Regions from separate parts of the Homo sapiens genome. Here regions 2, 3 and 4 are each linked to region 1. Evidence: fine-mapped QTL for protein levels in blood plasma. A gene starts in region 1. Each other region holds a variant in brackets. All regions are shown on one strand. Distances are from middle to middle. Region 1 holds the start of LMOD1 (leiomodin 1). Region 2 overlaps LMOD1 (leiomodin 1). Region 3 overlaps LMOD1 (leiomodin 1). Region 4 overlaps LMOD1 (leiomodin 1).

What was found. PIP is the posterior inclusion probability: the model's chance that the variant is causal. Protein levels are from antibody-based Olink assays in UK Biobank. Linkage for the fine-mapping came from a reference panel and not from the study's own genotypes, which makes the PIPs less certain.
Region 2: its variant is fine-mapped to the plasma level of the LMOD1 protein (UK Biobank, PIP above 0.99).
Region 3: its variant is fine-mapped to the plasma level of the LMOD1 protein (UK Biobank, PIP 0.92).
Region 4: its variant is fine-mapped to the plasma level of the LMOD1 protein (UK Biobank, PIP 0.94).

The regions. Positions count from the first base shown.
Region 1 is chr1:201,945,295-201,947,977 of GRCh38, reverse strand. LMOD1 (leiomodin 1) reads left to right here and starts at 1,430. Exons shown (of 3, transcript NM_012134.3): 1 at 1,430-1,898. The coding sequence starts at 1,638.
Region 2 is chr1:201,916,566-201,919,248 of GRCh38, reverse strand. All of the region lies in intron 1 of LMOD1 (leiomodin 1), which reads left to right. Among named protein-coding and RNA genes, the nearest start is that of LMOD1, 29 kb to the left of the region's middle. The variant TA/A (reference allele first, on the strand shown) is at 1,607.
Region 3 is chr1:201,896,441-201,899,123 of GRCh38, reverse strand. It overlaps LMOD1 (leiomodin 1), which reads left to right. Exons shown (of 3, transcript NM_012134.3): 3 at 726-2,668. The coding sequence ends at 752. Among named protein-coding and RNA genes, the nearest start is that of SHISA4, 8.9 kb to the right of the region's middle. The variant G/A (reference allele first, on the strand shown) is at 1,276.
Region 4 is chr1:201,925,281-201,927,963 of GRCh38, reverse strand. All of the region lies in intron 1 of LMOD1 (leiomodin 1), which reads left to right. Among named protein-coding and RNA genes, the nearest start is that of LMOD1, 20 kb to the left of the region's middle. The variant A/G (reference allele first, on the strand shown) is at 1,428.

The sequences.
Region 1 (2,683 bases):
ACTCAATAAATATATACCTACGGTTTGACCAATAAGTTGGCTACTGACTCTTAAAATGACAACCCCCAGGTTTCCCTAAAGTCTTCTTCCACTCTTCCTATCAAGTCTGCCTGCCTTCCTTCTGCCCTTCAGTCCCCCCAGTGGACACCATTCCCCTCTTCAGCCTTAACCTAAAGTTGGACTAGTGGACATTAAATGGCACGGCCAAGTTTTAGTCCCAGACGATCCCTGGACTCAGCAAATGCTGATCAAGTGACTGTCTCTCTCTGGCTTAGGATGGAAAGATGCCAGGAAAGATCGAAGCATCTACCCTGATGGGTTACACCAGGGCTTCTAGAAGGGATTTTGTGGCAGGAGGAAGGGGGGCAGGGGATTGAATGTCTCTGTGACTTGTGCAGGGCAGCATGATGGATGAGCAGTGGAAAGCCCTTCTATGAAACATGCCAGACCTGTTGCAATCGTATCTCTCCCGACGGCCCAGAATTCTGTTTCCCTGAAGACATACTAAATCGTGCTCTGGATTTATATGTGGGTGGTGACCTGCCTCTGTGCTCCCAAAGGAGGTCTGTCTACAGATGCCCGGCAGAGGAAGAAACAGATGACAACAGGGGGAGGTTTGAACCCTCTTCCCAAGAGCCTTGGAACTTCATGGAAAGTGACAGCCCTTTAAGAGTTTCCCGACTTCTGCAGATCCTTCTCTCTTTCCCAAACAGCCTGCCAGTTTTCAGTTTTGGTACACAGTAAGGATTTATTCTCTCTCTCTCTCTCTCTCTCTCTCTCTCTCTCTCTCTCTCTCCCTCTCCTGCCTAGCTATCTCTATCTCTAAGTTTGTCTTTCTGTCTCCTGTCTCTCTCTTAAGAAGTGGCCAAAGGATCCTGGAGCCTCTGATGCTCAGCCTTCAGGTCCTCCTTGGCAGAACCTGGGTAGAAAGAAAATGGGTAGGCAGGGGGTTAGGAGTAACAGCTCCTCATCTTGAATCTAGACTTTCCTGGAGCTGTATACACCTGGGAGCCCCCCAGCACATTACCAAATACTGTAGAAGGAAGTCCATGAACCACACATTGACCACAGTGATACGTCCACCCGGTGATGGAGTAGTAAAATACGCTCTTGAACGTGCCCCGGGCTGGCGAGTTCACCGGCCCTCATGGCCTCGTCCCTGCTTGTCTGGCTCTCCGTGGCTGTGATCTGCTTCTGCCAGCCTACGCATTTTTGTATCTTTTTCTCATTGCGTGGCCCCTTGTCTTTAAAAGGCTAAACTGCTCTGTACTAAATTTGGTCACGCAGCGCTCCAAGATTCCCTGGAATGTCCTCAAGTTTCAAACAGCTCTGACAGCGAGGTAGGCCCGCCCCCAGCTTGGGGATTGGCTTCTCCTCTCCGGGCCTGGCAGTTGTCGGGTCTTATTGGCCGCTGATTAGACCAGCCGGGGTCCACTAGCCCTGGGCTTCAGGGAGGCTGCTGCGTCCAGTGAACACTTCAGCACCTGTAGCACAGAAGGGCCAAGGAGCTGCAGTCCTCGACCAGCAGGAGGTTTGCTCCTCAGCCCACTCGCTGCATCCAGATCAGCTCACCCCTCTCCCTTCCCTGCCCACCAGGACTCTGATAGCCCCTGGCAGCCACAGCCCATTTTGCCAAGATGTCTAGAGTAGCCAAATATCGCCGGCAGGTGAGTGAAGACCCCGACATCGACAGCCTGCTGGAGACCCTGTCTCCCGAGGAGATGGAGGAGCTGGAGAAGGAGCTGGACGTGGTGGACCCAGACGGGAGTGTTCCCGTGGGGCTGCGGCAGAGAAACCAGACGGAGAAACAGTCCACGGGTGTGTACAACCGGGAGGCCATGCTCAACTTCTGTGAAAAGGAGACCAAGAAACTTATGCAGAGGGAGATGTCCATGGATGTGAGTGAGCACAGCCCTGGAGGGGAGGAGGGAGACAGGGGAGGGCTGGAGACCCTGGCTTCATGATTAGGATGCTTCCTTCCTTAGAAGAAACGTTCTTGTTGGCAAAGGATTTTAATGCTTCAGAACTGATGATTATCCACTGAACTAGCGGTGCGAATCTCTTACTCCTAATTTCTGTTTTATAAGCAGAAGTCGGATATGTTGGAGGAACACAACATCCCACAAAATCAAATAGAGCTACTAGTAGAATGGGAGCTGGAAGGTGTCCTTGAAGAGTCCATTGTCAAGTTGACTCCATCCTGGTCCCACAATACCTTTGTTTTTCTCCACACTCATTCCATCCTATTGTGAGGAGGGGTAAAAAGAGAGAGTGATACTTTATGTCTCCTGTCAGCCACCCAAAAAGACAAAGCTAAGCCATTTTTTGTGGGAGAATAACTCATTTTCAAGTCCCCAACCCTATGGGCATCTCACGGCACATGGATCATTTCAGGAGGCTTGGGGGTAAATGAGTTTCCCAAAGCAAAGGGAGACAGGGACCAGGAGTCTATGGGCTGGGAAATGTGGCTTAAAGACCTGATAAGCTTCAAATTTATTCCCAGGGAAGATGTTTTTTGTTGTGGTTAGTTGGTTTTTGGTTTTGTTTTGTTTTTGCACTCTCCAGAGGAGCCTCTGGAGGGAGCATGCCCTCTTTTTGGTAATTAACCCTTTAGCAGCTGGCGAGGCCGCTTTGCTGGGGGTTGAAGATAGTCATAGAGGAGGGAAAAGGGGTGACGGTTTTG
Region 2 (2,683 bases), 29 kb after region 1:
GACTGAGGCTCTGACCCCCCAAAAAAAAAAAAGTTTCTGTCTTTTAGAGATACACACTGAGGCCAGGCATGGTGGCTCACACCTGTAATCCCAGCAAAAGTGAGGCCAAGGCGGGAGGATTGCTTGAGGCCAGGAGTTTGAGACCAGCCTGAGCAACATAGCAAGACCCCAGATCTACAAAAATAAAAGTTAGCCAGGCATGGTGGCACATGCCTGTAGTCCTAGATACTCGGAAAGCTGAGGCAGGAGGATCACTTGAGCCCAGGAGTTTGAGGTTATAGTGAGCTATGATCATACCACTACACTCCAGCCTGGGTGACAGAGTGAGACCCTGTCCCTAAAAAAGAAATAGAGTACACACTGAAATATGTATGCATGAAATGATACACCTGGAATTTGCTTTCAAATAATGTGAGATTGTGACAAAAATGGGTGGGCATCAGATGAAACAAGATTGGCCATATGTAGAGAATCGCTGAAGCTGGGCAATGGGTACCTTGAGGTTCATTGTGCTGTTCTCTCTAGTTTGTTGTACAGTCGAACTTTTCCACATATAAAGTTAAAAAGAAGGAGGAGGAACAAAAGAAGAAGTGTTAGCCAGGCAGAGAAGAAAGCGAGAGGACATCCTGTGTGGCAGGAGCAGCATGCATAGGCAACAAGACCCAAGAGAGCCCAGCATGGGGTAGGGCAGCAAGACCCAAGAGAGCCCAGCGTGGCTGTTCCTCACTGTAACCAGAGTGCAGGCAGGAAGGGGAGGGCGCACAGAGGCAGGCACAGGCCAGGTCACGGAGGGCTTTGTTGCCATGCTACAAAGTCTGCACTTCATCCTGAAAGCATGGGAGCCATGGATCAGAATCACATTTTGAAAGGTCTTTCTGGAGACAGAGTGCACTCAAAGAGAAGGAAGACAGGAGGCAGGGGGTTCAGTGGGGAGGCAAGAGATGATGGAGGCCGCAAACACAGCAATGGTGAGGGGATGTGAGGAAGCTAATCTCAGCTATGTTAGGAAGGTGGGATGAAGGGAACGTGGTGAGGGAAAAAGGAAGCGTCAAGGCTGATGTCCCAGTGTCTGTGGGGTGGGAGAGCCATTCCTGAAGAGGGAGAAGGCGGGAAGACAGAGAGCTGCACCATCCCTGATCCCTGGCCTCTTAGGCCTAGGACTGGCTACAGAATTTGCAGGGCTTAGCGCAAAATGAAAATGTGCTCAAGAATTACTAAAACTTTCAAGACGATGACAGCAGAGAATTAAACCAAGCGTAGGGCCCTCTGAGCATGGGGCCCTGGAGCACTGCAGAGGTCAGACACCATAAAGCTGCTCCTGCTTTAGCCAATGTACCCTTTTCTGTTTAGAAGGAACAGGAGAGGGGCTGTATGAAAGCCAGGCCTCCTGCTCACAGCCCCAGGCAGTAAAAGAACAGTATGTTCCTTCTGCCACCCTCCGGGACCTAAGTGGGACCCAGAAGCCTGGGACAAATAGCTTGCATTTGTGTAGATCTTTACAACATTTCCCAGACTTGCTTGGGTTTTCCTTGGTGCTGGGATAAAATGAAGAAGCAGAAAGTACTAGCCAGGCACTTCAGAGAGCAGAGTGCTACAGTGACTTGTT[TA/A]TCTCCCCAAAGAGATTTCCCGGTTTCTCCAAAAATGGGGTTTGCTACAAGCTTCCCAGTATGAGTCACCAGACCAGTTGGCAAAGCATTTAGTTCTGCTGAGAGCAATGGAGTTGACCCTTCATTGGCCGAGAAGATCTGCCACAAGAACCTTCATCCCCCTAGTGATGGGTTCTGCATAACCCCCAGGCAGAAGCCAGAATGGCGCTGACTGTGAAGTCTTAGCTATTGCAGGCTGTGTTGCATGCCCTCACCTCAAAACGCCTCTGTCTTTCTCTACTTGCAGTGAATGCAGAAGCCTTGGTGGTAGGGGTAAGGGCCTAGGTGAAACACAGACACCGCTCACCGTGCCTTCCTTTCTGGTGCCTCTTGATGGCTCTTGGCAGGCTTTTGAGGTCAGGCCACCTTCCCCCATTTACCATCCCTTTCACTAGAAACCCTGGTCCTTAAAGACTCAAGGCAGGCAAGAACCCTCCCAGCCTTGGCAGAGTTTGGTGACACATGCAGTGTAAGTGCCCAGCCACCCACATCTGCACATTATCCTTGTCTTTTCCAGAAGGTTTCTTTGCTCCCCTTCCCTACAAAGACAGAGCAGGCCCTGAGATGGTGGCGTTCACTCCTCTTGTAAAGCCTGGTCTCCCGCAGGACTGCATCAGAAAATGCCCTTTTTTTCCCAGGTTCACAAACCGCTGCCCTTTTCTTGGCTGCCATTGCGCCACTCCGACCCCTGGAGATCATCTTGGGAGGTAAAAATGAATCATGGCGTTTCTGTTTATGCTGGAGCTGGAGGCAGTGCCTGAGACCCTTTGGCCCTCTGCTCAGCACTGATGTTTATCACCGGGGCTGATGTGTAATTGCTGGAACAGAGCCAGGCGAAGGTCAGGCTGCGAGGCAGGTCCTGGGCACAGCACAGCCGGGCTGAAGACTGAGCACAGTGACGGGGAATCCCCTCCCTCCCACCTCTGGCCCCATCCATCCCTCCTCCCCACACCACGGCCTGATGCCTCTTGGTTTTTAATTTTGTTTTGTTTTTGCTGTGAAACTCAGTTATTTAAAGACAATTTTGTTTCTTTTTC
Region 3 (2,683 bases), 49 kb after region 1:
TAGACTCCCAGGGCCCATAGGGGACTTCAGGTCATCTCATGCATCCTCCTGCCTGCAGGCAGGTCACACCTGTATATCCCCTAGAGCTGAGACTCTACCCTTCCTTTAAGGAGCTTCCTTTAATACCTCACTCCATGCTTCTCTTTCATTCTGCAATGAAGCCTGTTTCTCCTTAAAATGGAGAAATGGCCTCTACAGAGTAGTTTTGCCTCGGGTCCTTCCTTTAAGTCTTCTCCATTTCCCCAAACAAAAATGATCCACGTTTTACTTAGCCTCCTCTCAGGACCAGCCAAGTCCTACAGGTCAGTCCATCCGAAAGGTCTCTGGGAGATTCACCTCTCAGGAGAGTCTACCTTTGCCTAGCCAGTGCCATGGACACAGGAGCCATCCCTGGACACCCTACTTCTCCAAGCCCTGCCTCCCCTGGAAGTCTGGCCTGGGTGACAAAGTCCACGATCGTTTGTCCATTTGGTTGGATACCCAACCCCCACAACATCATCTGGGACAAGGTATCATGAGATAAAGGAAAATCTCAATTGTAATTCCAGTGGTCACTCAATGACATCCAATTTTTACAGACAATGAAAAATGCTCCCTCAGTGTCAACACCTCATTCACATTCCACAGACATAACATATTGCAGTGTCTTGTGTGTCCTTCCAGTAGGGAGGGAGGTGAGGTGGCTGAGCTCCCTTCTCTAACCTGTCTCTACTTTGCCCCTACAGGTGGAAGTGCCCAAACTGCTTCAGTAGGACCAGGCTGCCAGGCACCATCTGCCAATGCCATGACTGCTCAGGCCTCACCTCCCAGGGCTACACAGACCCTGCCCACCCCATCCCTGGCTGACCTGCTGTGGATGTCCCTATTCTGCCATGGGAGAGTCCAGGCCTGGGTCACGCTCAAGGAAGGATGCCTTATCTCTTCTCACTTTCCTTTTCTTGTCTCTGAGGCTCTCCAAATTTTGCTTTAGTACATGGAGCTCAGGTTTCTGGACAAGAAGAGTCCTTTTAGCACATCACTGAGAAGATGGCACTGTCCAGGGCCCATGTAGCTGGCAAGCTGCAAAAGGCCTGTGATCCAGGAAAGATGTCCCACAGGGACCACATCCACCCCAGCCCCACTGCCCTCCAGGGCCAGGATTCAGGCCTCTGAGGAGCCCACGGGGCAAAGCTGCTGGGCCAGTGGCACTCTGTGTGGGAAAATGGCAGAAAGATGGAGAGGCATGGGGGCCCAAAGGGGAGCGTGGGGAGGGGCTGAGGATACCCCAAAGTCCAG[G/A]CTAATTAGAGGATGTGGCAGGGGCAGTGGCCTGGATGCACAGTGCCTGATGGGAGTAGGCTCCAGACAGGAGGAGTGGGACAGACAGCAGCTGGACTTGAAGGTTTGATGCCAAAGCAGACATTTTCCTCACACCCACCTGCTGCTGTATGAATAGCTGTGTATCTGTTTTTCCATAAGATTTTGATAATATATACAAACCTTTAGCTGTGAATGGCTGTGCCCCACCTGTTGTCCTGAACTGTGAGTCCTGATCCTAACCCTGGGCTCCCTGGAGGACTCTAGAAGCTCAGGTTCCCTGCCACACTATTTGAGTTGGCCAAGAAATAAATTCACATCCTCAGAAAGTGCAGCATGGAGGAAAATCTGAACTCTAAGCAGAAGACTCTCCACTGACCTGGTTGTCCAGGTCTAGAAGGCCAGGCCTCTACTAGGTCTGCTCCTGAACCAGTCCTGCTGCCTGGAGTCAGTAGCCAGAGTTGTTCTCAGGGGTGCTGGGGCAGAGTGGAGCCCAGGGTGCTGGGATGGCTATATTAGGCATGTTCAGGGATGCTCATTCCATGACTCTGCCTAACCATGGGCTCAGGGCCAGGTCCTCACAGCAGTCACAGGCCCAGGAAGGCGGCAGGCAGAGAAGTGGAGTGACTATTTGGAGAATAGCACCCATATCTGTGTGCCCTAGGGCTCAGAGGGGCCTCATCTTCCCCAGCCCTCCCCACCTGCTCACCAATTCCACTTCCTGCCCCAACTGCAGGAATGCTGACAATGCTGCCATGCCCACCATCGGGTGTAGGTGAAAGGCATCTTTCTGAATTTCATTCTCTTGAAGGTGCTGCCACCCCTTGGCACTGTGGAACTGCCACCTTGGGTCTGTGTCACTTGTAGGTTTCTCTGCCTCCAGGTTGCCTCAACAGCAGGAGGCACAGCAGTTTCACCATCTTTGAGGTGAGGGTGGGGTGCCCCAGCTAGGAAGCAAGATCGCTGTGCTAGGTCTGACCAAAACCAGAGGGCAGTCTAGTCCTGGGGGTAAAGCCCTCAGATCCCAGGGTACACTCTTCTCCATTCCCTCCACCCACTTGCCTGTCACCCCAGTCACCTAAGCAATCACTGGGCCCAGAGGAGAGGAGACAGACACACACTGGCTCCTGGACCTAAAGGGTATGAGCTGGAGCTAAGGCCAGCTAGAGCTTCCACTGTCAGCCCTCACTGTCAGTCCCACTGCACCCCCCTGTGCCTGCTGGGCACTGGGCACTAGCTAGATGCTTTAGGTTGCTTCAGCTGATCCTTCAACTCTGTGAGGTGGATACCAATATTCTATTTTGCAGATAGAATTTGGCCCAGAGAGGTTAACTAATATATCCATGATCACACAGCTAATAAAAGTCAGAGCTCAGGTCTGTTTTGTTTG
Region 4 (2,683 bases), 20 kb after region 1:
AAACCCTTTCCATTAGGCCCCAGCTCCCAACATCACTGCACTGGGGATTGAGTTTCCAATGTATGAACTTTGGAGGACACATTCCAAACACAGCACTCCCAAAGATTCTAGCTGGTCCCATTCTGAATTCATAGGGAAGAAATTAACTCTATATAATGGATGCCTTAGGGCAGTAAGGGCTTAAATTGTCTTCTGAAATTCCAGTTGTCAAGGGCTGACATTGCGCCATTTTGCTTACACTGAGTTTCCTCAAGGTGGATCATCTCACCTACCCCAATGGCAGCATCTCTTCCACTTGCTACTTAGTGATAACCCACTTGTCCCATGTCCTCAACTTCACTGAAAAGTATAACAAATTCTTCTTTTTTTTTTTTTGTTTTTTTTGTTTGTTTGTTTTTTGAGATGGAGTCTAGCCCTGTCACCAGGCTGGAGTGCAGTGGCGTGATCTTGGCTCACTGCAACCTCTGCCTTCTGGGTTCAAGCGATTCTCCTGCCTCAGCCTCCTGAGTAGCTGGGATTACAGGCACACGCCACCACACCCGGCTAATTTTTGTATTTTTAGTAGAGATGGGGTTACACCATGTTGGCCAGGATGGTCTCAATCTCCTGACCTCGTGATCCTCCCACCTCGGCCTCCCAAAGTGCCGGGATTACAGGCGTGAGCCAAGTATAATAATTTTTAAATCACCAAGAAAATATCTAATAATGATCCCAGAGTACTAAAGACTCAAGTGTTCCAGTGGTCAAAGTTCTTTCAGGTTGGGAGGCTTTTGGTTTTACTTCCAGTCTCTGTAATCTTTGCCTTAAAAGCAGGAGAAGGGGGTGATACAAAGAACACAGACATGATATTTCTAAATTTGTTTTATTTGAAGAAAAGTATGCTTATAATGTAATAAGGCTCATCATAGACAGTATGCAAAACGTGGGAAAAAAAGGAAAATAGCCAATAATTCTTTGTCTTAGCTAAAGATATCAGCCATTGTCAATTTTCTTGTTTGTTTGTTTTTGAGACAAGGTCTTGCTCTGTTGCCCAGGCTGGGGTGCAGTGGTGCAATCTCAGCTTACTGCTCCCACGTGCCACCACTCCCAGCTAATTTTTTTGTATTTTTTGTAGAGACAGGGATTTGCCATGATGTCCAGGCTAGTCTCAAACTCCTGGACTCAAGCAATCCTCCCTCCTCAGCCTCCCAAAGTGCTGGGATTACAGTTGTGAGCTACGGCTCCCTGCTTCAGTTTTTTCTGAGTGTATAATTCTGTATGTATTTTTCTTTTTGTAGTTGAGATCATTTAATGCACAGCCACATATTCACATAAATTGTGTTCCCTACCTTATTTATTTATATTTTTGCTTATCATATTATAATTGCTTTTCCCATGTCACTAAAATTCTTCCTAAACATTGTTTTCAGTGGATGTCATCATAGTCT[A/G]TTGTATGGCTGTGTTGAACCATTTGCCTATATTTGGACATTTACATGGCTCCCAATAAATACACTTTCCAAGGCCCTAAACAGATCCCCAGAGCCTCAGCACGGGCTCCTTCTCTTGGCCTTTGGCGCCCATCCCCAGAGAGATGGAGTCAGCCAAACAAGATGATAAACAGAACAGTTAACACACTGCTTCCCCAGCTGAGCCTTATGGGCTGATGGGTGAAACAAAGCCCCTAAAAGAGAAAAAAGACTCACTGGGCACTGGAAACGCAGAGACTTATGGTCAGCTCACAGCACAGACACTCCATAGCCCAGAGAAACATAAGGCCACACATGTTATTCTTTTAGAGGATCAAGTTCCTAATATTGGACCATCTGCCAAGCAGAGCAAAGCCCCACCTCCCTCTCGCTTTGACTCCCTGTGGGGAAATGTGTCGGTTTGTATGCAGTATAGATAGAGCACATATGCCTGGTTTTTCTTCCTTTGGGGAGGAAAAAAATGTTACTACCTAAAAAGAAAACTGGCTGGGTGTGGTGGCTCACACTTGTAATTCCAACACTTTGGGAGGCTGAGATGGGAGGCCTGCTTGAGCCCAGGAGTTCGAGACCAGCCTGGGCAACACAGGGAGACCCCGCCCCCCAGTCTCTCCAAAAGAATTTAAAAATTAGCCAGGAATGGTGGTGCACGCCTGTGGTTCCAGCTACTTGGGAAACTGAGGTGGGAGGATCACTTGAGCCTGGGAGGTTGAGGCTGCAGTTAGCCATGATCACACCACTGCACTCCAGCCTGGGCACAAAGGAAGACCCTGTCTCAAAAAAATTTAAAAAATTAAAAATAGAAAAGAGAAAGAGATTGAAAAAAAAAAAAACAAGCCTCCAGCCTTGAAAAATTTCAGGTCTTGGGTGGATGTCAAGAAGAGAAGGTCAACTGGTTCATCCTCCTGCTTCTACAGGGCCCTACCCTAAAAACATTCCACACCAATACCAAACCATAACCAAATGGTCATGCAAAGTAATTTTCCCCTTCCAAGAAAAATGGAAAGTGTCTTACTCCCAGAAGCTTGTAGGTAAGTACTTAGTTGCTGTCTTAGAACATCACACAATATGCCCCAGCTCATCCATGCGCAATAAAAGCAGAACCTAATGCCTTGGGTCTGAAGATTTATGGGCTTCCACATACGTTATCTCTTTTGATCCTTGCTTCAGCCTTATAAGGTAGACAGGGGAGGTAAATTTTAATCTACTTGACAGGTGAA